Linked DNA regions of Homo sapiens: regions 1, 3, 4, 5, 6 and 7 are each linked to region 2. The links come from fine-mapping of genetic effects on gene expression. A gene starts in region 2. Each other region holds a variant in brackets. All regions are shown on one strand. Distances are from middle to middle.

Region 1 (4,262 bases), 77 kb after region 2:
TTTGGAGCCATGGACACTCAAATAATGTGATTTTATGAGGCTATTGGAGAAAAAATTGGCCACAGGGCCAAGAGGGCTGGGAGGACCCCAGCTCTCCGACTGGTGTTTGCTTCTCTGCCATCAGGGTCGGGAGGCCATGCCAAGCATTGTGATTTGCAGAGTCCATGAGACAGGAACACTCCCACCACAGTGACCTGCCTCTGCACACAGCCAGAATGTAGCTGACTCCTTTCTTCTCCCACTTGCATGCTTCCAAGCCTTCAAAACATACTCATCTCCATGTTCTGTGAATTAGCAATTTTTAAAAAAATAAAAAAATAAACAAACTCATCTCTGAAGGTCCAGGTGATTTTTATGTTTTACAGAAAGTTTTGTGAAGAGATGACAGAAAGGGTTATATCACATCCACACAGCAATAACTCCTCAAAAGCAACTTTTGGCCGGGTGTGGTGGCTCATGCCTGCAATCCCAGCACTTTCAGGGGCCGAGGCGGGAGGATCGCTTGTGCTTAGGAGTTTGAGACTAGCCTGGGCAACATAGCAAGTCCCTGTCTCTACTTAAAAAAGAAAAAAAAAATGAGCCAGATGTGGTGGCACGCAGCTGTAGTCCCAGCTACATGGAAGACTGAGGTGGTAGGATCACTTGAGCCAGGAGGTTGAGGCTACAGTGAGCCATGATCACACCACTGCACTCCACCCTGGGTGACAGAGTGAGACCCTGTCTCAAACTTTTTTAAAAGGCCAGGCATGGTGGCTCATACCCATAATCCCAGTACTTTGGGAGGCCAAGGTGGGTGGATCACTTGAGCCCAGGAATTTGAGACCAGCCTGGGCAACATGGTGAAACCCCATCTCTACTAAAAGTCAAAAAAATTAGGTAGGTGTGTTGGTATACATTTGTAGTCTTGGCTCCTTGGAAGGCTGATGTGGGAGGATTGCTTAAGCCTAGGAGGTCGAGGCTACAGTGAGCCATGATTGCACCGTTGCATTCCAGCCTGGGCAAGAGTGAAACCCTGTCTCTCTCTGTCTCTGTCTGTCTCTCTCTCTCTCTGTCTCTTTCTCTCTCTCTGTGTCTCTCTCTCTCTCTCTCACACACACACACACACAACTTATAAGCATCTCTTGTTTCTCCTAAAATTACCCTTCTAGCATTAGCTGTCCCATTAAAATTCTAATAGGCTTTTTTGTGGACATCTGCAAATTAATTATAAAATTTATATGGAAATGCAAAGGGCCAAGTAAGGGCCCTTAAAAGGGACAAAAATGGGAGAAATTACTAGATACCATGGCTCACCATAAAAGCTGCCTTGATTAAGACAGTGTGGCAGTGGTCAGCAAACAGTGGTCTGCCCCTGGGCCAACTCTGCCCACCATCTGTTTCTGTATGGCCCATGAAGCAAGAATGATTTTTACATTTTTAAATGGTTGAAAATAATTGATTGGTGGGGACAATGCTGGTGGAGTCTGAAGTTGTCATGCAGTGACTCACTCAAGGTTAGGCAGATTTGGTGATATATGACACAGAGATGCAAAGAAATGCTGTAGCTGACACACACAGGGTGGCTCTGGGAGATGCAGAAGGAGCATGTCACCCAAAATAGAGCCAGATAGACATCTTTAAGGAAGGAGCAAAGGGGCTGCATCTTAAAGAATGAAGAAGGGATTTGTCATGAGAGATGGGGCAGGAAGTTCTTGAGAGGCAGAGGGAGAGCATGAGAATGCTGGGAAGGGAGGAGAGATTCTCACACATCTGGGAAGCTGACAATTCATCAGCATGTCCGGAAGGAAAATAAGGAGGAGGAGCAGAAATAGATGAGGCTGGATATAGAAGCAGGGCTGAAGCTGTGTTGATCGTGGTAAAGAGTTGTGATTCTATCCAGAAGGCAATAGGTAGCATTCTAAACAGAGATCTCTTAAAACAAGAGTCAGCAAATATTTTCTGCAAAGGGCTAAATGTTAAATATTTTAAGTTTTCCAAGCCATATGGTCTCTCTCTTAATGACTCAGGTCTTCCATTATACCATGAAAGTAACCAGAGACGTTTTTTAACACATGTA[T/C]TGGCTGTGTCCCATTACAACTTTACTTACAAACGCAGACTGTGTCAGACCTGGTCCATGCATGGTAGTTTGCCACACCCTGTTTTAGAAAGCTCAGGTTTATGATGTGATGGAGAATGCCTACAAGAGCTCTTGTTTTAAATGGTAGAGTGAATATACACTGGAATTCTATCCTGCTTGACCCAAGCTCTTGATAGCGAAAGGTAGAAAAGATAGATAGTAAATAGATAGATAGATGATAGGCAGGTAGATAGATAGATGATAGATAAAGAAAATACATAGCTGTTCCAGAAAACAGAAATGGATAATTTCATGAACCAAAAGCAGAGTAATATACTTTAGAAAGGAAGCAGGCTGGAAGACCCACAGTTGCAAAGCAAATAGAATTTCCAACTGCCTCTTGTAGCCCCTTCCTGGAAGTAGTCACAGCCCAGGGTGTTCAACTTCTTCCTCTGTTTTTTGTTTGTTTGTTGTTTGCTTTTCTGTGGGGTTTTTGTTGTTGTTGTTTGCTTTTTAAAAAAAATCCCTTTCCCTGCTTTTTTGTCACAGCAGCCTTTGTCACTTCAAACACCGCAAGTGTTCTTTAAAAAAAATTATATCAACCTTTCAACTAAAATGCAACATGTCTGAAACTTGGTATCTGGAGAGGTGAGAGGGACAAAGGAGCCGTTGTTACTGCACGTTTTCATTCTCCAAACTTCACCTTGCACACAGTAACAGACAATGCACAAAGCTACTTCCTTATGGACGGAAATTCTGAAATCCTTTTATGCCTGGCCTTTCCATCCTTCAACTTCCCCTCTCCCATGCTGTGAGTGATTGTATTGGACATTTTTGTTTTAATCTCAGTGACAGGGGAACACAGATAGCTCTAATATAGCTGTGACCCAGATGCTTCTGTTTCTAGCATGTATTAATTTTGCAGCAAACATTACATCCATAATTTTTCACTGTCCTTTGAAAATAATTAGGCAATATCTCATCTGAGGTAGGATGTTTCTAGGGGTTGTGTTCTGAGTGAGAAAAACTAATCTGTTCTCTTTCCACTGCATTCTAGGAACAGTAAGAGGACCTTGTGCATGAATAATTTGTTTCCACACTGCAGAGTGGGTAATAAGCAGATTAGTAAAAACAATTCTGCTTCACTTCAATAACAGCCTCCTCCAACTCATTTTTTCTCAACAAACTTATTTTTGCAGCAGAAGAATCCCAGACTTCTTAGAGAACCCAGTGACTTTTTGCACCTTAAATCTGTGAAATCCTCATGCTTTCTTCTGCCGTATCCATCGTTCAAACAAACATGAGGCAAAGCTAGACACATTCCTGAAGGAACCCAAGAAATTCCTCTCTTTCTCTCTCTGGAATGAAATGAATTCTCTAGACCACCAGTTCTAACCTTCAAAAACCAAACCTGTTTGTGAGATCTCCTTCAAATACTACTGTAGACCCCAGTGTTTATTCATTAAATTTTTTAAATATTTGTTTTATTTGGAATCAAAGTATTTGTAATTTTAGTATTTGTATTAATATAAGGGAGAAATGTTTAAATCTGTCTATGCCATATGTGCCTTCGGCTTATTGCCCAATTAATTGTAGCCTCAGGCTAAACTTTGGTTTCTGTCTTTAATTTTTGTCGGAAGAAATATAACCGGTCTCAAAACATCTGCTTTTATTGTAGGGACTCGTGCTGCCATCTCCATTCCTCTCTCTTTTCTTGCAATCTGGGTGGAAGTTCTTTAATATGAACATTTCAACCACCTTCACTCTACCATGTCCACTATCAGCACATTCAAACGTATCCAGCCAAGGGTATCATCTTAGGCCAGGGATTTTTTAGGAATCTATTTTGCTGTGATGCACCTGGTACCCCTTTGACTCACTTTATCACCCCAGGGTTCTTTTCATTTTAGAAGCCCAAGAGGGCAGAAAAAGAAGTAGGTGAGCAATTAAACTCTCCAAGTCAGGAGCGTCTCCCCTTGTGTTAAGCAATGTTGTAGAACATCGTATTTAGCAAGCTCCTAGCAGATGAGCCACGTGGCTGCTGAGCACACACGCCTGCTTGCTGCTGTGAGCTCAGACACCATCATTATGTCTTTTTCACCTCTGGAGGGAATTGTAAGCGCCACTTAATAACCTGTAAATCGTAGAGAGTTAAAGGTGTTTCCCTAAAACACTGATGACAGAATGAAAGGTAAGGAGTGTTAGC
Region 2 (4,262 bases):
TGTGGGCTCTGCTGTTACTCTGTGGGCTCTGATGTTACACTGTGGGTTCTGCTGTTACTCTGTGAATTCCTGCTGTTACTCTGTGGATCTCTCTGTGGTTACTCTCTGAATTCCTGCTCTTATTCTGTGGACTTCTTTTGTTGCTTTGTGAGTTTCTGCAGTTAGTTTACCTCTTTACCATCCAGCCAGGAATTCTTTCACTAGGAATTGTGTGGATGCTGGCCAATTGGGCTAAATTTAATATTACTATGTCCCCTATTGTGGTGGTGGGGTCTTGGCTTGGCAATTTCTACTAGTATTCCATATGCAGTTAATCTTGACACATCAGTGAAAGAAAAATAAAATCTCAGGCCTCCAAACTTACTATGCCAAAGGGAAAAGTTAATATTGGCAACACACACACACACACGCACACACACACACACACACACATACATGCCTTCTTTTTGTTCCCAAAAGCTTACTTTATCTTATGTGAAATGTAGATCTACTGAGTATGAGACAGATGTATAACCCTCCCCCATACCTTTCTTTTCACATGTGAAATGTAGATTTGCTGTACTCTAATCAGAGCCTCACAAAAATGTGACCACTTGCCTCATAGCCTACTCTCCCCTCTTTCCCCTCCTACCGGCGCTTTTCCCTTAAATATTTGGAAAAAAGTACAGGCCAAAAATCCTACTGTAACCTGTGTTTCTTTTTCCCCAGGCAAATCCACAATTTTGGCAAAATAAACCTCTATATCAGTTGTGATCTGCCTCAGACACTTTTTGGTTTACACAACAATCCAATCATAGCGATTTATTTGGAAATATACCTTCACAAGTTAAATCAAACCACAGCACTACTGGGCATTATTTGTAATGGCAAACTATTGCAAACAATCTAAAGCCCATCATAGACATCATAGAAACTATTCTAATAAATTGATACATTTATATAATGGAATAATCCGCAACCTTGAAGGGAATGAAGGAAGGAATAAAGAGAGAGGGTAAGGAAGAAAAGAAAGGAGAGAGGGAAGGAGGGACAGACAGGTGTTTAAATTGGGGATGTGCAAGCAATATTGCCTGCTTCATTGCCTTCACATTATCTAAAAGCATGTGGTCAAGAAACACTATTACAATAAGCACATCAGAAATAACTTCTAAAATTACTTTTCCAAAATATGAATCCATACTATACACTTCCTGTAATGTGCACCAAATGTAGATGCACACATTTTAACAAGGAAAAGACTAATACTCATATTTGCTTGCTACACACCAGACACTGTTTTAAATGTTTTGCACACGTTAACTCATCTGTTCTTACAGAAATCCTGTAGCGTGCACCGCCACCTCCATGTTTCTAGGAGGAAACTGAGGCACGGGGGCTGCGGCTCCTGGACGCACCTGGCCTTCTCGGCCTGCCTCTCTCCCTCCAGCCGCCCCACATTCTTTTTTCCTAATTGGAAAAAACTATTCACGCTGCTCCTCCAGGGCATTTCAACCTTCTAGAAAGACTCGACAAGATTCGAAACTGTTTATAAAGAGAACGTGCTTGTGCCTGAATGCTGAGTGTGAGCGCGCAGTGATGCCCTAGAGTGCAGTCATCCCGGGCTTGGCGCCCAGCGGGTGGAAATACGGCCGCAGGGTGGAAATGCGGCGGCGGGGCTGCCCAGGCTCCTGTGGGACCCGCGCGGCGCGGGCACGCACATTCTCAGGGACGCGCGTCCTCAGGCCACGAGAACACCTGAAGGCCCCGGCCAGCGTCCTCCAGTGAAGACCCGGACCGGCGTCGTCACCCGCCGCGCAGGCCTAAATCTCAGGTCTTCACCGTCATCTCCCAGCGATCGCAGGGATCTCAGGCACTGACCGCGCCCGTCCCTGCGCCCCCCCGCCCCCGCCCCCCCGCGCCCCCGCGCCCCCGCGCCCCCGCGCCCCCACACCTCCACGCCCGGCACTCTGGGCGCGCGCGGACGGCGGGGCAGTGCCTACTACGCAGGCGCACGCTGCGGGCGTCAGGACCCGGCAGCAACACTGCCACGCGAATCCGCGCCGGCCAATCAGCATGGCCAGGGGCGGGGCTTCCCTGAGGCGCGCCGAGAGGCGGTGGCCCACTTCCGGCAATAATCGCCTGGTCGCCGTCAGGTGCCGGCCCAGGTGGCAGGCGCGCCCGTTGGGCACTGGGGGACGCGGGCGCGTCAGGTGAAGACTGGGGGCTGCAGGCGCGCTAGGTAGGTACGGGGTGCCGCGGGCGCGTCAGGTGAAGACTGGGCGCCGCAGGCGCCTTAGGTGAAGATTGGGGATCGCGGGCGCGTCAGGTGGGGACGATGGGCCACGGGCGAGTCAGGTGAAGACCGGGGGCGGCGGGCGCGTCAGGGGAAGACATGGGGTCGCGGGCGCGTCAGGTGGGGACCGGGGGTCTCGGGCGCGTCAGGTGGGGACGGGGTTGTCGCGGGCGCGTCAGGTGGGGACGGGGTTGTCGCGGGCGCGTCAGATGGGGACGGGATTGCCGCGTGCGCGTCTGCTGAGGTCTGGGTCCGCGGGCGCGTCAGGAAGGGACGATGGGCCGCGGGCGCGTCAGGTGGGGTCTGGGGGCGGCCGGCGGGTGTGGAGGGTTCATTCAGGGAGCTGCGGGCGAGTCAGGTGGGCACGGGGACCGCCCACAGGTGCATCGCGTGTCCTCAGCCGCTTCCCCTGCCCACCTTCTGCGACCCCTTCCCGCCCCCACCCTCCTGGGCCGTCTTGCAGGCCCGAGCTTGTGTCCGCCTCGCTGGGCAAGGTGTTTCGGGGACGACTCCTGCCGGCGTTTGCCCTCCGGGCTCGGCCCTTGCCTCTTCGCCGGTGGGCACCTGCTAGGTGTGACCCCTCATTCCTCCAGGCCACTCTGCCCCGTCTGCTGCTTACCTTTTTTTCCCTACTCCTGGTCTGTGGCTCTGGCTCTGTCTCTGTCTCCTCCCTTAATTTCTTTCCATGCTTATTTTTCTTGCAGCAGACACTAATTTTGCATCCTTCCCCTCACAGTAAGCTCAATTTGACCTTTTTCTCAATTAGATTCCACCTCTGTCCTTGGGTCTATTCAAACTCATTTTGAAGACTAAAGAATCTAGAGAACCATTTCTTCCCTTATGAAGCTGTCTCTTGCTGCCTCCAAATCCTTACCATCCGGCCCTAATCAAAAAAGACGTTTACTCTTTCATATTCTGTTTTCTCCTCGTCTTTACATGTTTACCTTTCCCATGAGGAATCTGTGATTATCTGTAAGTCCTTACAGTAAATCTTATTTCTGACTCTCAGCCCTCAGTGTGCCATTTTTTTAAATGTCCTTTCTGGATCAAATTTGTCCACACTTTTAAGCAAAACAAATAGGGAAACACATGTGGTCTTTTAAAATGGATTAGAGTTTTCTTTCCTGTCTTGTTTTCCTTGTTTTAGTGCCTTTATATTTAGATTCATCATTACTTGAAATCATATTAGTGATCTGTAATAGACGGTAAAAAAAAAAGTTAAAAGGCTTATAATTTAATGGCATCTGTTTTAATAGGGTTTTCAGGAACTGCTATTATAAACATAGTGGGTAGGAGCATGGATCCCGGAGTGAGACTCCATCATTTTGAATCCCAGCTCCACTGAACTCTTTGCCTCAGTGTCTTCATCTATAAAATAGATAATGAAACTTGTAAAACAAGAATAATGTTTTCTATCTTGGAGGACAGCATGAGGATTAAATGAGACAACATATGTAGATTGTTTAGAGTAATGCATAGCCTATAGTAAGCTCTAATAAATGTTTGCCATTATTATTGTAAAGAAAAAATATGCTTGTTGAAGGAAAGACTTTTTTTTTGTTCTGAGTCTCTCATGCCAAGAGTTTCCACCAGCAAATGAACTTCATGAAGTCATTTTCTACTGAAGTACCCCACCCACATGTCCTACCACATGAAATAGAAATTAAGGGAAGATTTAAAATAGTTAATCATTGTAGGCTGTCTGAAATAAGTTGGCATAAAATGTGCTTAAAATTTGCAAATTATACAAGCTACACCCTTTGAGTGCTTGCTCTTAAAAGTTTAATAATTTTCAGGAGTAATTTCTAGTTTTTTTTTGTATTTGCAAATCCCAAAATAAAGGTAATTTTAATTAAAATAAGCGTACAAAGCTCTAGCAATTCACATTTTTTTAGCTGAACAAATACATTCCCATTAAAAGCCGTGGGTTGTCATCATTCTATAAAACTTTAGTAGCATTGTTTTCTGATTTACAAACTCAGAAGCCTCA
Region 3 (4,262 bases), 250 kb before region 2:
CAGCCTCCAGAGTAGCTGGGATTACAAGCGCGTGCCACCATGTGAAGCTAGTTTTTGTATTTTTAGTAGAGACGGGTTTCACCATGTCGGCCAGGCTGGTCTCGAACTCCTGACCTTGGATGATCCGCCTGCCTTGGCCTCCCAAAGTGGTGGGATTACAGGCATGAGCCACCGCACCCAGCCTGAACTAGTTTTATCCTTTGAAGCCAGCCCTTACCATCTCACGCCCCCTTCTCTTCCTCAGCAGTCCCTGGGCCTAGACAGAGGGTGCTTGATATGGTATAGCTTCAGCAACAGCTCCAGGAGACTTTGAATGAGAGAGATTTGAGAGATAAATGGCATTAATAATTTGAGTGGTAGAATTATAACGTACAGGCATAATGTGTCTGGAGTTGGTTCCTTTGGTGGTTTCGTGGTCTCGCTGACTTCAAGAATGAAGCCACGGACTTTTGCAGTGAGTGTTACAGCTCTCAAAGATGGCACACATCCAAAGGGTGAGCAGTAGCAAGGTTTATTGTGAAGAGCAAGAGAACAAAGCTTCCACACCATGGAAGGGGACCTGAGCAGGTTGTTGCTGCTGGCTGGGGTGGCCAGCTTTTATTCCCTATTTGTCCCCTCCCATGTTCCATTTTTGTCCCATCAGAGTGCCCTTTTTTCAATCCTCCCTGTGATTGGCTACTTTTAGGATCCTGCTGATTGGTGCATTTTACAGAGTGCAGATTGGTGTATTTTACAGAGCGCTGATTGGTGCATTTTACAATCCTCTTGCTAGCTACAGAGCGCTGATTGGTGCATTTTTACAGAGCGCTGATTGATGTGTTTTACGATCCCCTTGCTAGCTACAGAGCTCTGACTGGTGCGTTTTACAATCCTAGCTACAGAGCTCTGATTGGTGCGTTTTACAATCCTCTTGTAAGACAGAAAATTTCTGCAAGTCCCCACGCCACCCAGGAAGTCCAGCTGGCTTTGCCTCTCAACAAGAATTTATGCGCCCCTAACAGGAAGAAAGGAATCAACCCCATTAGGGAGCCAACTAAAACGATCATGAAGAAAATTACAACCTGGATCCTCTTTAGAGATGTGTAGCCAAGAGATAATTCAAGACTCAGTTTGAATTATAGGCAAAAAATAAAACTCAAGAACAGTGGTCGGGGCTGGAATTGCAGAACAAGTGTTTTCTTTTGAAACGTAATTTTTTTCATCTCTTTAGTTCCCCCTTTCTACCACAGAGAAATAATAATAAGACCAATTTGTGTACAAAATAAGTTTTAGTCTTATTCTATTTGGCTTGATCATTTGTGTAAATTGCAGCAGGAATAGCAGCTGGCCGTGTAGGCTCTTTTTAAATTGGCTTTGCTGGAACTTTATCGGAAAGTGTTATTTCAGTCAAAGGTCTTGTTAAAATAATATCCCCAAAGTGTCCTGTTACAAAAGAAAATGTATTCTTATTGAACTTATGCAAACCACCATATTGCTGTAAGTAAGAATGCTCATGAATAGTTTTTGAATTCTGGAGGTAGAAGGTAGAGAGAGAAAGCTGAACTTTGTTATTTTACTCAGTTTCTGTCACCTATAAATAGGTTAAAAGAAAAAAGGTTTTCTTGACTTTGGAAAACAAAACAAAGAATCAGTAACACTTTAAATACAAAGGCAATAAGCGCTGTTCAGTTCTGATAAGAACAGGAAAAGGAAGCTCACAGGTAGCTAAACATCTAAAGTATATAGTACTAAGACATAGAGCAAATTATATTAATTCAGATAGAGGGAAAACTATGAAATGTCTTAACGTCTTGGAGTATAAACCCAGCCCTGTGTCTCATGAAAGCCGTTCACTTCGATGGTTGTCTTCCCCCGGATCTGAAGACAAGGCTTTGGTTAGCTTGAGTTTGGTTTCAGATACCAGTGTGGAATGTTCAAGATTCAGCAGGAGTTGGTGCCTTTTTTAGGTGATGTGATACGGTTTGGCTGTGTGTCCCCACCCAAATCTCATCTCGAATTGTAATCCCCATGTGTTGAGGGAGGGACCTGGTGGGAGCTGATTGGGTCATGGGAGCTTGTTTCCCCCACGCTGTTCTCGTGATACTGAGTGAATTCTCTCGAGATCTGATGGTTCGATAAGGGGCTCTTCCCCCTT[T/C]GCTCTTTCTCTCTCCCCTGCCATGATGAACAGGATGAACGCAAAATTAAATTAAGACGTACCTTGCTTCCCCTTCACCTTCCACCATGATTCTAAGTTTCCTGAGGCTTCCCCAGCCATGGGGAACTGTGAGTTAATGAACCCTCTTTTGTTGATAAATTACCCCGTCTCAGGTAGTGTCTTTACAGCGTGTGAAATCAAACTCATACAGGCTCTCGGGGCATTTGTAGCTGCAATGCTCCCTGCCTGGGATGCCTTTCCTTTGCATCTTCCTCTGGCTGTCACCTCTTTTGTTTATAAATTACCCAGTCTCGGGCAGTTCTCTATAGCAGTGTGAAAACAGACTCATACTCTATGTGTGCCCAGGAGTCAACTCCCTGTAACTTGGTAGCACATGGATTTGTTAATAGTACCTTTTAAGGACCCTTCCAAAGTGCAGGGGAAAGAGTCCTGTAACTGATGTTTCTTCCAGTGTATGTAATCAGCAGGCTGGAGGTGGTGATTTTGGAGTTCATGACACAACTGGAAGCTGCAAAAAGATTTTACAGGCCAGGTGTGGAGGCTCACTCCTATAATCCCAGCACTTTGGGTTCACTTGAACCCAGGAGTTCGAGGCTGCGGTGAGCTATGACTGTGCCACTGCACTCCAGCCTGGGCAACAGAGTGAGACTCTGTCTCAAAAAAATATGTATAATCTCGTAATGATTCATTTTTATAGCTTTGATGATCCTGCCTGCAATAAGTCTAAGTGAGATGCTTAATGTAGGATTTGATTTTGAGGACTTTTGTGAAAGATGTTAAAAGGCTCAAAACATTTGATCAAAATAGAATCCTAGGTCATTGTAAAATAATAGTTACTCATGTAACCATTGCCATCTTCAATGGCAAGGCAGAAAGTTACATGGATGTAAAAACAAGCTCAGTTTTCATAAGCAATCAAAAAACCAAATAAAAATGACACTGGAAATTATCTTGATAAAATGCAAAATCTTCGTTTTTTGAGGCCAGTTACTCAAAAGGCAAAGAAACACCTTCTGCAGTCATTGTTTCTCCTCTGGAAGCCCATTGAGCTAACCTGCAAGTCAAACCTGATGAAAAAGGATATTTGAATTTAGTCAGGTGCAGGAAGAGTGTGTCTAGGGTCATGAGTGTACCTGATGTTATGGAGGAAAGGAAACAAGAAAACCAGCACCTTGAGCAGGGCAATGCATGACTCTTAGTAACAGCATGAGAAGTTTCCTGGCTATACTGAACAATGTATAACAAGAAAAGCCAAGAGTACAGAATCAAGTTATATGAAGGAAAACATTGCTTTTCTAGACCTTTAAGATCAACATTTCAGCATCAGGCCACAGCAGTAGTTACAATTGGAAAAGAAAGTTACAGGAGCTGATGAAAAAAAAGGCTGAAAGGGAAGGTTATCATCCCAACCAAGCAAAAAGATACACCTTGGCAAGGGCACAAGAACAGAAGGCAAGGATCAACACAGAATTAAACATCAATTTTTTTTTTTTTTGAGATGGAGTCTTGCTTTGTTACCAGGCTGGAGTGCAGTGGCACAATCTCGGCTCATTGCAACCTCCGCCTCCCAGGTTCAAGCGATTCTCCTGCCTCAGCCTCCTGAGCAGCTGGGATCACAGGTGTCCACCACCACGCCTGGCTAATTTTTGTATTTTTAGTAGAGACAGGGTTTCACCATGTTGGTCGGGCTGGTCTCGAACTTCTGACTTCAGGTGACCCACTTGCCTCGGCCTCGCAAAATGTTGAGATTACAGGTGTGAGCCACCGCGCCCACCTAAACATCAAATTTTATTAATAGCAAATTATTATTTTAACAAAACTTTTCTCTAACCGAAAACTTTTGGTTTTATATTAATTAGTGTACTTTTTTTTTTTTTTGAGATGGAGTCTCAGCCTGTTGCCCAGGCTGGAGTACAATGGCACCATCTCAACTCACTGCAACCTCTGCCTCCCGGGTTCAAACGATTCTTCTGCCTCAGCCTCCCGAGTAGCTGGGATTACAGGTTCCCGCCACCACATTCAGCTAATTTTTGTATTTTCAGTATAGACAGGGTTTCACCATGTTGGCCAGGTTGGTCTCAAACTCCTGACCTTATGATCCGCCCGC
Region 4 (4,262 bases), 52 kb before region 2:
AATGCAGTTTTAGGATAAGGACAATCCTTGGAAATCCACCTTCCAGAAGGTTCCACTGTTGCGGCTTTGGGATCAGGAAAGGGGATTTGCAGGAAGGGACAATTGAGAGGGCTTCTCCCTGCTATGGAGACACACAGCTGTCTGTACTTCACGGGACCCCCTCCTTCAGATCCAGAAGACACTGAAAAGAAACGCAGGGCTTTGAACCTGGGCTGGGGCTCCCGGGGCTGGGCGGCTGCTGCCTCTCGCTGAGGGAATCCACACTCTCGAGGCAGCACCTCGCAGAGCAGGTCACCTCGACTGCCCCATGATGTCCACGAGGCTTGTTCCTGTCTTACTACGATCGAGAAGACAGCATGTGATTTTATGAACACCCCGTAAAGAAAACCTGAAAACCGTGTTCAAAGAAATGCCATTGAGCAAAAGGGCAGCTGTGGACCTGGCAGGTGGGGCCTGCGGTGCCTGAGGTCACGGCCAGCAGCCCCGGGAACGGCTCCGTCTCAAGGACATCTTAAGGCCAGTAGGGGCATTTGGGACGGCAGAGGCCTCACCCTGAAAGTGGTGGTTTCCACAGCTGGACACGTCCACAGGACCTCAGAGGGGAGGGTCAGAGCTGAGAGCTGAGATCCAAGCCGCGGTGTGGGTGAAGAAGGAGCGGGCAGGGATCGCTCTCCGGGAGAGGCCTGGATCTGGGCCTGAGCAGAGCCGCTGCGGACCAGACACAAGTGGCCACGGCAGCCAAACCAGATTCCCGGATCCCGGCCGACGGCCTTGGAATCCGGGTCACAGAGCCTTTCTCACGCGGTTTTCATTTTGCCTGGCATGGATCGAGTTTCTTAGTCTACAAACGTACAAGGGCTCACTTCAAGGCCACAATCCATCAACACAGCCAGCCAGGCTCATGCTCTCAGTCAATTTTCTTACTTTAAAAACCTATTTTACCTCAGCCTGCAGTCCCTGAGATGGATGGGTGTGAGCAGAGCTGTGAGGAAAGCAGCCCCTACTTGTGAGAAACACCTGCGCCTCACTGGGCAGACTGCAGGTGCGACCCACGCAGCCTGCAGGTGGGAGGCGGGACCGGGCTGGCTCAGAGGTCGGGCATGGAAAGCCATGGCCGAGGCTGACATCCACTCACTCCCCCCACAGTCCTCTCAGCTGGACAGCAACACACACCCACACTCTCATGCCAGTTTGCACACACAGCCATGATCATTGCACACACACGCACACACAGGCTGCTGCACAAGTCACACCTACTCATTCACACTCATGCACACTTACATGATAGATGCAAAATCCTTGTGTTCCAGGGGAGGATGTGAGGACGCAGGGGTGTGTGGCTGTCCATCCCACCGTGAGGGTGCAGGTGTGTCTGTACTCCTCCGTGCTGGGTCCTGGGGTGTGTGTGCAGGTGTGTCTGTCTCCACCTCTGCACCAGGTCCTGGGGTGAGTGTGTGGCTGTCTGTCCCACCGTGAGTGTGCAGGTGTGTCTGTACTCCTCCACACCAGGTCCTGGGGTGAGCATGCAGCTGCCCGTCCCGCCGTGCGTGTGCAGGTGTGTCTGTCTCTCCTCTGCACTGGGCCCTCACTCTGCTGCTCCCCCATTTTGTGGCTGGGAAAATTGTGATATCTGTGATTTTTCTCATCAGTCACAGCTGGAACTTGCACGACTCTGTCTCACACCCATTCACACAGCCGTGAGGACATCGATGTGCAGCCTTGACCTCCTGCAGCACATTCATCAGGCTCCCGTCGCCGCTGGGCCATTGTCAGGGCCTGGTTGCCCACCTGGCTGAAGCCTCCCCGTCATCACACCCCTCACCGGAGCAGCCCCAACTCACAGGCTGTTAGTTGTCACCATCAAGCACACCAGAAATTTTAAAATGATTTCTCTAAGCCAGGCACAGAAAGGCAAACATTGCTCTCTCTCTCTCACTAATTTGTCAGATTTAAAAATTGAAACAATTGAACTCATGGACATGGGGTGGGGAAGGACGGTTGCCAGAGGCTGGAAGGGGTAGCGGGGCTGGGAGAGGTGGGATGGTTAATGGGTGCAAAAATAGAAAAATGAGTAAGACCTGGTGTTCGATAGCACAACAGGGGGGCTACAGTCAGTAAGAACTTGACTGTGCATTTTAAAATAACTTAGGGAGTGTAGTTGGGTTGTTTGTAACTCAGTGGATAAGTGCTTGAGGGGACAGACGCCCCGTTTTCTGTGATGTGCTTACTTCACACTGCATGCCTGTATCCAAACATCTCACATACCCCATAAATTCATACACCTATGTGGCCACAAAATTTAAAAAAATCATTTATCTAAGGATAAAAGTGAAGTTCCCCTCGTTTCATGCAGCTTCTCTTCAGTGCTTTTGTTTTTCGAGATGAACCTTCCTCACTGGTATTGT[T/C]GGCACCAGGAGTCTGTTCGGGACAAGCTCCCGCCATTTCTCACCACTCCCAACTTCGGGGGAGTCTCTCTAAACACACGTGTTTTGTGGTATTCGGCTGACATTCTGACTACTGTAAGAAATCAATGCATGACATACAAATTCACACAATTTTGGGGAGGGAGAGACTGCAGGTTATGCTTTCAAAAATTTTCATGATTTTAGATTGTTTTTTCTTTTTAGAAGTTTTCTTTTTACGTGAGATATTTGACTCAAGCATTGTTAAAAATGCAACAACATCATAAAAGTTTGGTGGTTCAAAAAATAATGATGACACAAAACTCTAGTGCCTCTACACTTGGACAGTTTTAATTTTTTAATTTGGTAAATCTGGTTACAGAAGCCAAGTGATTTTTCAGGCACACCAAGTTTTCAGCGCTTGGCAGGAAGTAGAAATGAACATGTCTAGAATTTTCCACCATGCAGACCTTCAGAGCATGTGTGCCTATGTCTCTATGTGTATGTATACACATATGTGCAGACGTGTTTTTGTGTGTGTATGAATGTGTATCATGTGTGTACATGTGTGTTATTCATGGATTGCTTTTGCTAAGCAACAGATAATGTAGTGATTCCAAAGGAGTTTCAAGCTCATCTTTATTCTTTTTTTATTTTGCTGAGTAAAAAGTACAGCTGTAGCGGAACGTCCTCCTTAACTCACTGTGCGAGACGGATGTCACACGGATGACTATAAAACGTAGCATGCATGACGTATGCAATTTATAGAAAGAAAACCAGATGGAAATAAAAGAAGAATAAAATTGGCATAAATGACCCCAAATCACACCTGAAACACACTCTGTGGCCACTGATGGCTTCGGGCGCTCTGCGTTCGGGAGGCCTGGAAAGTCCCAGCTGCGAACATCTCCGCGGCCCCGTGACTCGGTTCACCGCATTGCTCAGACATCCACACCTCCCGTTACTTTACCTTAAGCCTTGACTTATTTTTCACCTTTTAAAGTTAAGATCCGTGATCAGTGAGTGCCACTCTGTGGGGAGTCACGTGTTTGAGATGGGAATTTCCACAGGCAGCTGAGAGAAGAGGATGGAGTGGGTGTCCCTCCGAATGCTGGTGTCTGATGCCTCAGTGAAGGCGAAAGGGTTGATCCTGAGAGGAGAAGAATGAGCTCATTTGTGGAAGAAATGATAACTGCTGACCACAATACAGGCCTTCAGGAGTGGTGCTGAGTCCAGGGAGCATGTATTAAATGCCATTTATGTGGCAAGCACAAAGCTAAGGACTGTCCAGTCTGTGGAGAGTAAATCTCCTTCCTGCCTTGCAGGCTGACAAAGTCCAATCATTAGTGACCATTCATGCCAGGAAGGTGGAGCTGCCTCCCCAGATGCAAACAAATCCTGTGGCTTTTCCCTGGTAGCCTCGGTGGTGGGTCCCGGTGGGGAAACAGTGACAGATGAGGGTGATTCCCAGGGGTCCTGCGAGAGGCCATGGTCGGAGGGCTGGAAGGAGGCGGGAAAGGTGCTGGTTCATTCACAGCTCCAGGTGGGCTGGAGGCATCCAGGCGGGACTGTGCCTGGGAACACAGGTGCCACCCACGGGGAGCTGCTGTTCTAGAGACGGCCATGGGCACCTCTGGGAACCCAGGAGACCCAGTGACCCACAGCTTTTATCACCTGGCTTCACAGATGGGATCTGGGACTTGGCAGTTAAACCGCTTAGGGAGGTCCCATGACTGCCAGGTGGGAGGGCTGGATTCGAATCCCAGAGGGAGGTCGCCTCCCCTTCCGCCATCGTATCCCCGACTCACTGCCTCTCCACCCTGGAGATGGGGAGAGGGAAGAGCTTCGGAGACCAGGGTG
Region 5 (4,262 bases), 34 kb after region 2:
GCTGGAGTGCAGTGGCACGATCTCAGTGGCCTTCATACCTGGCTACTTTTTTGTATTTTTACTGGAGGTGGGGTTTTGCCATGTTGGCCAGGCTGGTCTTGACCTCCCGACCTCAGGTGATCCACCCACCTCGGCCTCCCAAAATGGGATTACAGGCATGAGCCACCGCTCCCAACTTCATTCATTTTTACTTGAAAAACTCCCTTAAGCATTTTTTTTTTTTTTTTTTTTTGAGACGGAGTCTCGCTCTGTCGCCCAGGCTGGAGTGCAGTGGCGGGATCTCGGCTCACTGCAAGCTCCGCCTCCCGGGTTCACGCCATTCTCCTGCCTCAGCCTCCCAAGTAGCTGGGACTACAGGCGCCCGCCACTACGCCCGGCTAATTTTTTGTATTTTTAGTAGAGACGGGGTTTCACCGTTTTAGCCGGGATGGTCTCGATCTCCTGACCTCGTGATCCGCAGCATTTTTTTAAGGTAGACCTAGTGGTCCTGAATGCCCTCAGCTTTGTTTGTCGAGGAAACACGTTATTTCTTCTTTCTTTCTAAAGGACAGCTTTGTCAGACATAGTATTAGTTGCTGGCAGTTTTTTTCTTTCAGCACTTTGAATGTATTATTCGATTCTGTCCTGACCTGCAAAGTTTCTTTAACTTTTGACTATTTGATTATATTGTGACTTGGTGAGTATCTATTTGGTTTGAACCTCTTTAGGAATCTTTAAGCTTCATGGATTTAGATGTCTAAATCTTTCCCATGATTTAGGCAGTTTTCAGCCATTCTTTAAATGAGCTTTCTTCTCCTTTCTCTACTTTCCTTCTCAAACTCCCATAACCTGACAATGGTTTGCCTAATGGTGTCTTGTTGGCTTTCTTTTCTCTGTCTCTTTTTTTTTCTTTTTTTTTTTTTGAGACAGAGTCGTGCTCTGTCACCCAGGCTGGAGTGCAATGTGTGGTCTCGGCTCACATTGCACTCCAACCTCCGCCTCCTGGGTTCAAGCGATTCTCCTGCCTCAGCCTCCCAAGTAGCTGGGACTACAGGTGTGTGCCACCACACCAGGCTAATTTTTGTATTTTTAGTAGAGATGGGGTTTTGTCATGTTGGCCAGGCTGGTCTTGAACTCCTGACCTCTTAATCTGCCTGCCTCGGCCTCCCAAAGTGTTGGGATTACAGGCTTGAGCCACCACGCCCAGCCTTCTTTTCTCTTTTTTATTCTTTTTTTCTTTGTCCTCTGACTGGATAATTTCAGAAGATCTATATTCAAGTTTACAGATTCTCTCTCCTGTTGAAGTTTACTATTGTGTTATATCACCCAGTCTGGTCTTGAACTCCTGGGCTCAAGTGATCCTCCCACCTTGGCCTCCCAAAGTGCTGAGTTTACAAGCATGAGCCACTGCATCCGGTCAGTCCCAGCACTTTGGGAAGCTGACGTGGGAGGATCACTTGAGCTCAGGAGTTTGAGACCAGCCTGGGCAACATACTGAGAACTTGTCTCTATATTAAAAAAAAAAAAAAAAAGGTCTTTGGGAGGCCAAAGCGGGAGGATCACCTGAGGTCAGGAGTTCGAGACCAGCCTGGCCAACATGGCAAAACCCCATCTCTACTAAAAATACAAAAATTAGACAGGTGTGGTGGCACACGCCTGTAGTGGTGGTGCATGCCTATAGTCCCAGCTACTCAAGAGGCTGAGGCAGGAGAATCACTTGAACTGGGAGATGGAGGTTGCAGTGAGCTGAGATCGCACCAGTGCACTCCAGCCTGGGCAACAGAGTGAGACTCCATCTTATAAAAGGAAAAAAGAAAGAAAAGAAAAATTCCGTATCTGAGTGTTTACTCCTGAGTTTTTGAGATTGTTATTAAGATCGTGCTCTACTGTGATGATTTGGGTTTGTTTGATAATCACAAAAAAGCATATTCTTTTGGGTGTTCAGCCACACTCCTTTGGTGT[C/T]ACAACTGCACATTGGTTTCACAGCTGCAGGACAAATTCGAGCATCTTAAAATGATTCAACAGGAGGAGATAAGGAAGCTCGAGGAAGAGAAAAAACAACTGGAAGGAGAAATCATAGATTTTTATAAAATGAAAGCTGCCTCTGAAGCACTGCAGACTCAGCTGAGCACTGATACAAAGAAAGACAAACATCGTAAGAAGCAATAGTTTCTCTTACTATTCTGAGAGCCTTATCATTCTACATCCCATCTTCCTGTGAGATTGTCTTTGTAGCATTTAACTCTAATTGCAGTTCTCTTTTTAAAAATTGGCTTGCTTATTGTATATTTTCCCCAACTAAAGCGTGAACTCCTAGTAGGGCGTGATGGCTCATGCCTGTAATCTCAGCACTGTAGGAGGCCGAGGTGGGTCGACTACCTGAGGTCAGGAGTTCGAGACCAGCCTGACCAAGATGATGAAACGCTATCTCTACTAAAAATACAAAAATTAGCTAGGCGTGGTGGCTGGGACCTGTAATCCCAGCTACTTGGGAGGCTGAGGCAGGAGAATCACTTGAACCCTGGAGGTGGAGGTTGCAGTGAGCCGAGATCTCACCATTACACTCCAGCCTGGGCGACAAGAGCAAAACTCCATCTCAAAAAAAAAGGGTGAACTTGAAGGCAGGTCCTGTGTCCATCTTTTCAGATTCTGTATCCCAGCACTTGGGACATAGACAAACACGAAGATGACAATCAATATTTGCCAAAATGAAAAAACAAACATGTAACATCATGTAAAAGAAGCTGGTTAGCTGGAGAAATTTCTTTACCATAGTCTTGCTTGTGGATCCAGTAGTGACTTTTACATTTTATATCTAAATAGAAGCTGGAGGCTTTGTTGGGTACTCATAGGCATAAAATATTATGTTATTTATTATAGAGTTAAATGCTACAAAGACAAATCTAATTAATAGGCCTATTTTCCTTTTTAAGTTCTACTCATAATTTCTTCATAGTTTTTATGATAAAAGGTTGGATTTTGATTAGAACTCCCATGCTTTTGTGTCAGAATTAAAACTGGTATTAGAATAAATAATTCAAAAGCTAGAGAAAGAGTACAATGAGAAGCCATGAGTTGCATTTGAATTATAATATTATGTCTTACAGATTTGGGGTATATGCTAAAGTTACCAAAGTTGTAGAAAATAAGGCCGGGCATTGTGGCTCACATCTGTAATTCCAGCACTTTGGGAGGCCGAGGTAGACGGATCTTTTGAGGTCAGGAGTTCGAGACCAGCCTGGCCAACATGGTGAAACTCCGTCTGTACTAATAGTACAAAAATTAGCCAGGTGTGATGGTGTGCACCTGTAGTCCTTGCTACTCAGAAAGCTGAGGCAGGAGAATCGCTTGTACCCAGGAGGCAGAGGTTGCAGTGAGCAGAGATTGTGCCACTGCACTCCAGCCTGGGTGACAGAGTGCTATGAGTCACCACACCTGGTATGAGCCACCGTGCCTGGCCCACAATGACTTTTACACATGTTGTTAAATCATCTTACAGATTTTATAATTTGGGGGAAGAACAGTTTTACTAAATGGTCTTTTAATGGAAACTCTACAAGAACCAGAATCTTTGCTTTGTTCACTTATGTATCCATTCCTAGGCCTAGAAAAATGTCTGACACATAGCGGCAATTATTCATTGAATAAATGGACCCAGCGATAGTACATTAGCTATGCTATATGCATACATTAAAGATGTAGATTATTGACTTTCAAAAGATAATTAATGTAACTTCTTACTGCTGAATATGTTTGTGAGTTATATTGCTGAGGGACCTTTATCTTCTCATTCTTTCATCTTAACCCAGTGTTATAAAATTGAAATCACCAATATTATTCCATATCTAAAATTAATATCTACCTTGTAAAAAATATCACTCTGCTGCATTTGACAATAGACTTTTTAGGTAATAATGATGCAATCCATAGGGTTTTTTGGGGGCACAGAGGGATTCATGCTAACAGAACATTTTATTTTCTATTTTCCCAGAGCTGTAAAACATGAAATTGGGGTAGTATAAGGCATATTTTTACTCTTTTTATAATTTTTTCTAAAAAAAATTAGTGTTTGTTCCCTATATAACTTTTAACTTTATAGGTAAATATTTGTCTCTTTCAGCTCCAGTTTTATGTGAAATAGAGTTTTCAGATTTATGTAGCATGGAAAGTTTTAATATGTCAGAGTTACTGATTTTTGCCATTTTCTCAATTATTTCTTTTTTATCTTTAGTTGATTTTTTTGTAGTGACACATTTTGTTTCTAGTCTCATTTCCTTTTGTTT
Region 6 (4,262 bases), 32 kb before region 2:
GAGCAGGACGGGAGCCTGGAGCCAGGGCCAGCATTCACCCACAGTTAGGTTCCGGGAGTGCGTGGCCCACACTCCTGGGTGTGAGCAGGACGGGAGCCTGGAGCCAGGGGTCCTTCCAGTCCATGACAAGGAGGCTGGGCTTGCTCTGAACAGAGCCGGAGGCCAGACTGGCTTGAATGGGGGAAGAGGAGCAGCGGCCGGAGAAGTGTGGGGGTTGGGCGGGGTCGGAGGGCTTCCGAAGGGCTGACCGCATCTCTTAGATAACAAGCGGGAACAACGCGGGACCCACTAGGAGCAGGCGTTTGTCCCGGCCTTGGAAGCGGTGCTGGGACCCTTACTCAGGTCAGCAGGCCCGGAAGGCCATGGCCCCCATGGCTCCTGACTCAGAGCTGGACGAGGTTCTACGGTTCCAGGGTAGGATCGGTCCCTCCCACCATTTGTGCAGAGCCAGGGGCCTGCGAGACCCAGAAGAAAGCTGTGCCCTTGCTCCTGGCGGCTTGTCCCAAGTGGGCGGCTCTGGGCCTGGTCGCCCAAGGGCTTTGCGGCTGACATCCTTCTCTCCATGGCGCCCTGGGACCTGCCCTGCTCAGCGCCATTCCCTAGGTAACGGGGGGACCTGGGGTGTACTGCCAGGAGCAGGCGGAGGAGCAAGCCCCCTCTTCCCAGGCTCCACGCTTTAGGCCCTGACTGGGAGTGGTGCTCCCCGGCGTGGCCGTTGTCTCCTCAGCCTGGGGAGCAGGCCCTCTCTCCGGATGGCCGAAGCGTGTCCCTCAGAACTAAGCTCTGGCCAGGCAGACCTCTGTCCCCATGTCTGTTTATGAACCTGCACTGGGACCAGAAGTTAAGAATCCAAGCATTCAAAATAAAAGCCGTAAAAAAAATTCCTAAACTTAAGAAACTGCACATTTTCTGGAACGCACAGTTAGGACGGGTTTATGAGGGGCAGTGTAAAGCGTGTTGCAAAGCCCCCAAAACCTAAAAAGGACCCAGAAAGTATTGACTGCATCCTCCTGGATATAATCTATGTGCGTTGCAAGCGCTAACACCGCCTGGCCAGCGAGAATGGCTGCTTGCACATCCTGTGGGCTTTATGATTTACTCTCATAGAAAAGACACACATATCTAAAAACACATGTCACCAGCAGAGTTAATCACCTGTTGGACACACAATGCGCCGCACACCCCAGATCTGGAGCCGCCTCCAGGTCTGCAGAGCCTGGCGGGGTCACAGGCATCCATCTCTTCAAATGACGCTTTCTCATAATTCAACAGCCTTCAGCCTATGAACAATAATTTAGTTTTTGTAAAGAATAAAAAACACATCTTTTTATAAATTTGTTGAAAGGTAAAGTTCATTTTTTTCTCATTCCCCTCTTTTCTTTCCATCTCTTCTTGATGATTATTTTTTGAGGTTACTTTAATCCAGGATGAAATACAGCAATTAGAAAATAACATGCATTAAATCTTACAGTATATTAGAGAAAATCGTCAAAATTAATAAAAGCAGAAAGAGTCCTCTTTTGTAAAGAAAAAAATGAAGAAACTAATAGTCTAGAAATATGCGTATGCATTTAGTGCATAAAAATGGAAAATGGAGGGTAATTCCGTGCAAGCTGGACACCTGTATTTGAATAAGTTTAGTAATGAAAAAGGGCCAACCTATTTTATTTTAAGATGAGGATTCAGGGGGACTGGAGGGCCGTGGGCACCTGCGTCTTCCAGAGGCAACCCTGGAATGAGTTTGTTTCCATTTCTTGCAGCAGCTGGCTTAGCTAACCACACAATCTGAAAGATGCCTGAAGGCAGTTAAACAGTCCTCACCTATTCAGCCGTAATTCACCCAATTAGGTGACAGGTCCGACCCGAAGGACCTGGAGAGGCTCTCACAGTCATCACATCTTCTTTTTGGCCAGTTGAGAGCTGGCTCC[G/A]ACTCGGAGGCGTGGGGGGCCCTGCACAGACCCAGGGGAGCTGCTGGGATGGAGCCCACCTCAGGGGTCTGGGACGTTGCTTCAGACTCGCCTTTCAACGGAACATGCTGGGCTGACAGCCTTGTGGTTTCCCTGACTTTGAATCGGGTCTGTTTGGCATATTTGCTTAGAGACCTAGTCTTGAAGAGTTCGATGGTTTGGCTTCAGAAATTGTTTTAGAATATTTTCGAATAGGACAGAGTGATCAAGGGAAAAATGCTGAATAGGAAACACTACCATGTAAATGTGGAATCTTTTAAAGAGCTAAAATATTAAAGTACTGAAACAATATGAAGATGTTTGATTTACTTATTTTCACACATACAAGATGTGTGTGTATTTGTGAGTGTGTATCTGTGTGCATTCCTGTGTGTGTGCACCTGGGTGTGCACACCTGCGTACCTCTAAGCACCGTTCTAGCTGTGGGGAAATAGCAGTGAACAATAGTCTTGCCCTCCTAAAGGGAGAGAGAAATAGGAGAAACGGGTAAGGAGCCTGGTACGGGTCGAGTGATAAACGCTGTGGAGAGCGAAGCAGAGGGGCTGGGGTCCTGGAACCCCAGGCAGGGTCCACACTGAAGTTTTAAATTTAGGGGATCGGGAGGGTTATTTTGGTCAAATAGGAGGGGAACCTGCAGGAGCTACTGTGCTCTGGACGAGGAATGAGGCTGGCAGGCCTGGCCGGGGCATCCAGCTCTGTGGACCTGAAGCTTCCGTGACGGTGGCACTCATTTAGGGATGACAAGCCTTAGAGCCAAAGGTGGAGGTGAGCGCGAGACCAGGTTGAGCAAAGCCCCATCAGCCACGAGGCTTCCTAGAGGGCAGGGGGACTGGAGGACACAGGAGCATGAGGGCAGGAGCCCTGAGAACAAGGGGCCATGCTGGCAGGCGAAGATGTGGCTGATTGTCTGGGAAGGGGAGGCCAGTGCTGGGTGAGGGCGTGAACCTGCGTGCCCTTATATTTTGTGGTAGCCATATTTACAAAAACGAAACAGTAACCGGTAAAATTCCTGCTGCCGATGTATTTTACTGAACTCAGTATATCAGAACAACTATCCACTCACCCTGAAATCAATGCGACACATCTTTGGACATTTGAGACTCTATGCCACATACCAAGTCTCTAAAATCCAACTTGTATTATACATCTATAGCCCCCGCCCCATTCAATCCAGGGCAGCATTGCAGTGCCGTGGCCCCCAGCAGCCCACATCAGAGCCTGGGTGCTGACGTCCTGGCAGGGGGAACTGGAGGCGCCAAAAGGAAATGCCTTCTTCAGTAGGGGAGTGTCCCCCGCCCCACTGCTCTGGGAACAGCTGCAGGCAGGTTCCCTCTCTCCAAGCACTCTCAGACAGTGCTGTGATGAGACCCTTGTCACAGGTATTTTTGGGGACTCTGTGTCTTCTAGGAAAGGCTCCCGGGTCGTGGTCTCCCTGACAAGAGTCCTGCACTATGCAGGTTGCTCTCCTGATCCTCAAATGTGTCCTGGAGCTTCCCCTGGACCCTGGACACCCCAGCACATGGGTGAGCCGATGTCCAATGCAGGCCACGCACGAAATGCATCCACAGTGGGAGCCAGTGGTCATCCTGGTCAGGGCCAGCCTGCAGTTACCCCTGCCTGGCAAATAAGACATGGAGGTCGGGAGGGCTGGTTCCCTACTCCTGGTCATGTCACGGGACATTCTGGAACTGAGGCTCCATGTCTAGAAGCAGTGCCTGCTGGTGTCCCTGTGAGCTTGGGGGCCCATCTTCCAGGCCAGTCCTTGGTTCCTGCATAATCATTATGATACTGCCTTTCTTCTTCATAATTTTATGGAGGCTGACTTTATTTTCATTTCTCTGGTATATTTTTTAAAAACAAAAAGCAAAGTAGAAAGAATAATGTAAGACAAATGCCATTTGTTTTCTACCCGATAATATTCTGTAATAATTGTAACTCTCTTTTAACAAAATAAAAAACATGAACTGTTGCAGGCAAACCCCTCTGTCACCCTCCACTGTCTTTGCCATTTCTGATCTTTGCCAGAATTGTCTTTTAAAATTTTATTAGTGGTGAAATATGACAGTTTCCCACCTAAGATCAGAAGCAGCAGAGGGCTGCCTGTGCCCACCAGAGCCGTTCACGATGGTGCCAGGAATCCTAGTCGGCTTACTCAGACAAGCAAAAAACACATCATGTTTGGAAAGAAAAGAGTGAGATTATCATTACTCACAGAGGGCATCATCATCTGTAGAAAATTCTGCATAACATGTAAACCAAAAATAAATTCTAAGCCCCCCAACAATCTAAACAGAC
Region 7 (4,262 bases), 180 kb before region 2:
CAGGTGTGTGTGCAGGGCTGTGGGTGTGCGCACACCTGCGTGTTTAATCATAATACAAAGTGGGCCGGGAACCTCACCCTGAAGTGTGAAGGGCAGTGCGTCATTTAGAATCCTTCTCTTTTTCTCCTTCTTGAGCAGCTGAACGTTGAGAGGGGCCCCGTCTGGTGTGGCCGTGTCTGGTCCCCCATGCAGGCCCTGCACCGTGGACTCCCAACCTGCGGGGATCCGTCCCCAAAGACGCCACTAGTTCTGCCAGCCCAGGGTTTCCTGAGTGTTTCCCGAGAGGCCCTGGTTGCACGGAGTAAGTTCTAGTTTAGTCCTGGTTCGTTCTCCCCAAACGTCTCTCAGGAGCTGTGTTTCTTCTTCATGACCTTCCCCTTAGACCTGTGTCAGATCAGGGTTAGAGGTTGGTCTCCTGGCCTGTGTGGCCACCCTGGCGCCCTCGACGCTCTGCCATGGGCTCCCTTTCTTTCATCGGAGGCAGCATCTGGCCATAGTGAAACTGAGTGTGGGGAGGGGGACGCAGAGCTCCCAGGTCCCAGCCCACAGGTGCCTCGGTGGTGAAATCCCCTGACACACTGAGTGGGGCTTCCAGGACGGGGGACGGAAGGAAAAGGATTAAGGGGTTAGGTAAGTGCAAATATGGCTTTGAAGGTTTAAAATCCTTCACTCATGTTGTGAGGGAAGAACAGGTACTAGACTAGAAGCCATGTCTGGTTGCCCTTGAGGGACCCCTCAGCCAATGTGAAGACGTGTCCAGGCAGCCCTGGGAGACATCCCTGTGGGGGGGCCAGTGCAGGAAACGGACCGCCGGGGGAAGCTCCTGTCATCCCAGGGTGGGCCAGGCTGGGACTACAGTCATGTGCACAGCATGGCTGAGATAATGAGCAAGACTCCAAGGTCCACCCAGGGGCCCGATGGCCTTTAGGGAGACCTAGCACTGTTGCAGGATCAGGAGGACCGGAGAGAGACCTTGGAGTGTACACAGGAGGATATCTTTATCATTGAGTGCACTCAGACCCAGCAGACTCAATGTCCAAAGACTGGGCCCAGAACAAAGACAGCGCCTGACTTTTACACACACTTCACAAAAGGGGGTGGGCTAGCTTGAAGCAAGCTTACAGTGGCGTGAAAGCAGGGATACAGAGGCAGGACAAACTCAGGATTGCACATGACTGTTGCCAAGCAACCCACATGTCCGTTATCTAGGTTAACCTGGGCACGGGCTTATCCCATAACCTTCACTATGTTGCCCAGGTGGCCGTAACTCAGGCCTGCTCAGAGGCTCATGACCTTCACTTTACTGCTTAGATAAAACAATGCTTGAAGTCAATAGTTACAGAGAACAGGAATTTATAAACTCATTCCATAAAACAAAGGAAAATTTGTTTTTCTTCTCCCTATATTGAGGGAGTGCTGGGAGAGTCTCCAGAGCACATTAGATAATATTATTATTAAGACTTTTCCTGGGTTTGGGCTGTGCTTGTTGCTGCCTCTAGGACAAGTTAGCCTAATACGGGAAAGCTTATTTCTCTTTCTTTTTAATTTTATTTTTCTTTAATTTCCCACCTCAACACGACCTGAACGTGGCTTAGTCTGCTGCTGGTGTTTGTGGAGGGCTGAATAGTGTCCTTAGGAAATATGTTCAAGCCCTAACCTGTGAACACAGACATTTTTGGAAATGGGTTATTGCAGATGTTATGCATTAGGATGACCTCATGATGGATTAGGGTGGGCCCTAAATCCAATGACCAGCATGCTTTTAAGAAGGGGAAATGTGTGCACAGACACACAGGGAAGGTACGGTGAAGCCGGAGGGAGAGAAGAAGGGACGC[G/A]TCTACACTCCAAGTGCAGAGAGAAAAGGTTCAGGGTTGAGGCTCCTGAAACAAGACGGATTCACCAGAGAAAAGCGAACAAATGTATTTTAGTTTTATGTGACTTGGAGCCTTCGTAAGGAAATGAAGACCCAGAGCCAGGTGGACCTGTGTGTTTGTGCTTTGGCTTGATGAAGAGGGGATGGCCGTGGGGAAACGTGGATGAGGACGGGAGGCTGTGATGTGATGGGTGAACTGGGCACCTCAGCACGGCCTGTGTGCCCGGGGGAGAGGGGATAGGTGAGCAGGGAAATGACTGTGTTGACTATACACAGCCACCACCTAAACCTCAGTGTTTGCTTTGTAATTGAGCTCACGCAAGCAAAGCTATCTCCAGCGGGGACTCTCTTCTAAAGAGCACGCACACTTTAATTTTTACCTGTCCTCGAACCAACCCTTTGTTCATTATAACAGTGAAAAAGATACCCCTGGGTGGAGATGTAAGATGCTAATGAGACACACCACCTACAAACAAGCATGTGTGCCGACGACCACCAGACTGTGCTTCCTGATAACACCTCTCCCACTTTCTTTTTTTTTTAAGGTGGGGTCTAGATCTATCCCCAGTCTGGAGTGCAGTGGTGAGATCTCAGCTCACCACAGCCTCTGCCTCCCAGGTTCAAGCGATTCTCCTGCCTCAGCCTCCTGAGTAGCTGGGATTATAGGCATGCGCCACCATGCCCAGCTAATTTTGTATTTTTTTTTAGTAGAGACGAGGTTTCTCCATGTTGGTCAGGCTGGTCTTGAACTCCCGACCTCAGATGATCCACTCGCCTTGGCCTCCCAAAGTGCTGAGATTACAGGCATGAGCCCCCATGCCCGGCTACCTCTCCCATCTTCTTATGGATCATCGGGTGAGACTCCCATAAAGGCAGCCTCCCTATGGCCGGTCTCTGCTGTCTCACCCTCATGACCCACCCTGAGTCCTTTCTCCCTTAGGGTGGCCTGTCTATTCTGCACCTCACTTTCAAAATACTCTTTTTTTTTTTTTTAAAGACAGAGTTTTGCTCTTGTTGCCCAGGCTGGAGTGCAGTGGTATGATCTTGGCTCCCTGCAACCTCTGCCTCCCGGATTTGAGTGATTCTCCCGCCTCAGCCTCCCAAGTAGCTGGGATTACAGGCGCTTGCTACCATGCTTGGCTAATTTTTCTATTTTTATTAGAGATGGGGTTTCACCATATTGGCCAGGCTGGTCTCAAACTCCTGACCTCAAGTAATCCGCCCACCTCGGCCTCCTAAAATGCTAGGATTACAGGCGTGAGCCCCTGCAAAATACTTTTCTTCTTTTGCAATAAGTTACTCTGTGCTGCACTTCTTTTGCAGTGTGTCTCTTGTTTAAATTCTTTTGAACTGAGAAGACGAGAACTGTCATCACGTCAGCTGTCAACACCAGTTCTCTGTGTCCTGTATCTTCAGAGAGAAGGGCGTGTCTTTTCCCCGGGTTTCGGGAGGGCGTCTCACATCAGGGTCTTGGGGACCTGCTGTAGGGGAGAAGGCTGAGGGGAGGTGAGAGAGACCTTCCTGCTTCTGCTGTTTTCACAGTGCCAAGGTGCCATACTTTGGGGTAGCGTGTCCCGAACCCCATCAAAAGCAACACAGAGGGTTGCTGGGGCATGGCCGGGAGCAGATTCCCTTTCACATCTCCGCAGGAACTGACCCTGCCGATGCCTGACCTCAGACTTCCGGTCCCCAGGCTGTCAGACAGATTTCTGTTTTGCTTAGTCGGGCAGACGCTAGGCTCTGTCCCCTACGGTGGCACCATTGGTGCCGCTCATCGGTTCTTTTCAGGCGGCACAAAGTCCTGCACACGTGTGGGCCAGGTCTCCAGGAGATCTAGGCAGAGTGAAATGCAGATTTTGGGGTCCCCTCTGGCTCTGTCCTTTCCAGGAACTCCTCTTTCCTCCCTGGCTGCCACAGTCACCCCGTTGCTCTCTGGGTCCTCATGCCGGAGGGACGGTGGTTTCCTACCCGAGGCTTTGCTCCCCTGCGTGGGCCAGCTGCTCTCGAGTGGAATGCCTTACAAAAGGAAATCTGCCTGGCGCCACGGCTTTCCTCCGAGTACGGACGCCTGTTCAGTCTCTTTCTGCTTCCGGCTGTGCCCGGTACCTTCTGGTGGTTGGTGCCTGTATCTGTCCAGGGGATGTAGGTGGTGTGTTGGACTGACATGAGCTGCTTTGCCATGACTGGAAATGGAGCCTCAGTGTTACTGGAAAAAGGGTCTCAATCAAGACCCCAAGAGAGGGCTTTGGATCTCTCGTGGGAAGAAATTCCAGGCGAGTTGCAGAGTGCAGTGAGAGAAGGAAGTTTATTGAAAACTACTTCATTGCAGATAGGGCACCCTCAGAAAGCAAGAGAAGCAACGCCCCAGCTTTAGGTTTTTCTTATATAG

Which allele goes with the higher level. Positions count from the first base shown, and alleles are read on the strand shown. Sizes are in standard deviations (SD) of each study's normalised expression. Not every link is listed here.
With allele C in place of T in region 4, the expression in skin of the gene that starts at base 1,982 in region 2 is higher (moderate effect, 0.65 SD a copy in TwinsUK).

What was found. PIP is the estimated chance that this variant, and not a neighbour inherited with it, causes the effect.
Region 1: its variant is fine-mapped to the expression of LINC03100 in putamen (GTEx, PIP above 0.99). The same link has a PIP of 0.9 or more in hypothalamus and sun-exposed skin.
Region 3: its variant is fine-mapped to the expression of LINC03100 in whole blood (TOPMed, PIP above 0.99).
Region 4: its variant is fine-mapped to the expression of LINC03100 in skin (TwinsUK, PIP 0.95).
Region 5: its variant is fine-mapped to the expression of LINC03100 in whole blood (TOPMed, PIP above 0.99). The same link has a PIP of 0.9 or more in lung.
Region 6: its variant is fine-mapped to the expression of LINC03100 in testis (GTEx, PIP above 0.99).
Region 7: its variant is fine-mapped to the expression of LINC03100 in whole blood (TOPMed, PIP above 0.99).

What each region holds. Positions count from the first base shown.
Region 1 is chr2:242,163,932-242,168,193 of GRCh38, forward strand. No RefSeq gene overlaps it. Among named protein-coding and RNA genes, the nearest start is that of LINC01881, 77 kb to the left of the region's middle. The variant T/C (reference allele first, on the strand shown) is at 2,057.
Region 2 is chr2:242,086,584-242,090,845 of GRCh38, forward strand. LINC03100 (long intergenic non-protein coding RNA 3100) reads right to left here and starts at 1,982. Exons shown (of 1, transcript NR_186294.1): 1 at 768-1,982. It overlaps LINC01881 (long intergenic non-protein coding RNA 1881), which reads left to right and starts at 2,050. Exons shown (of 7, transcript NR_130702.1): 1 at 2,050-2,218.
Region 3 is chr2:241,835,359-241,839,620 of GRCh38, forward strand. No RefSeq gene overlaps it. Among named protein-coding and RNA genes, the nearest start is that of PDCD1, 21 kb to the right of the region's middle. The variant T/C (reference allele first, on the strand shown) is at 2,135.
Region 4 is chr2:242,034,972-242,039,233 of GRCh38, forward strand. All of the region lies in intron 3 of LINC01237 (long intergenic non-protein coding RNA 1237), which reads left to right. LOC105373980 (a long non-coding RNA gene) reads right to left here. Exons shown (of 3, transcript XR_924086.3): 2 at 4,077-4,222; 3 at 3,024-3,902. Among named protein-coding and RNA genes, the nearest start is that of LINC01880, 47 kb to the right of the region's middle. The variant T/C (reference allele first, on the strand shown) is at 2,406.
Region 5 is chr2:242,120,322-242,124,583 of GRCh38, forward strand. The region is part of intron 3 of LINC01881 (long intergenic non-protein coding RNA 1881); the gene reads left to right. It also overlaps the pseudogene SEPTIN14P2. Among named protein-coding and RNA genes, the nearest start is that of LINC01881, 34 kb to the left of the region's middle. The variant C/T (reference allele first, on the strand shown) is at 1,942.
Region 6 is chr2:242,055,080-242,059,341 of GRCh38, forward strand. All of the region lies in intron 3 of LINC01237 (long intergenic non-protein coding RNA 1237), which reads left to right. All of the region lies in intron 2 of LINC01880 (long intergenic non-protein coding RNA 1880), which reads right to left. Among named protein-coding and RNA genes, the nearest start is that of LINC01880, 27 kb to the right of the region's middle. The variant G/A (reference allele first, on the strand shown) is at 1,929.
Region 7 is chr2:241,905,317-241,909,578 of GRCh38, forward strand. All of the region lies in intron 2 of LINC01237 (long intergenic non-protein coding RNA 1237), which reads left to right. Among named protein-coding and RNA genes, the nearest start is that of FAM240C, 7.0 kb to the left of the region's middle. The variant G/A (reference allele first, on the strand shown) is at 1,836.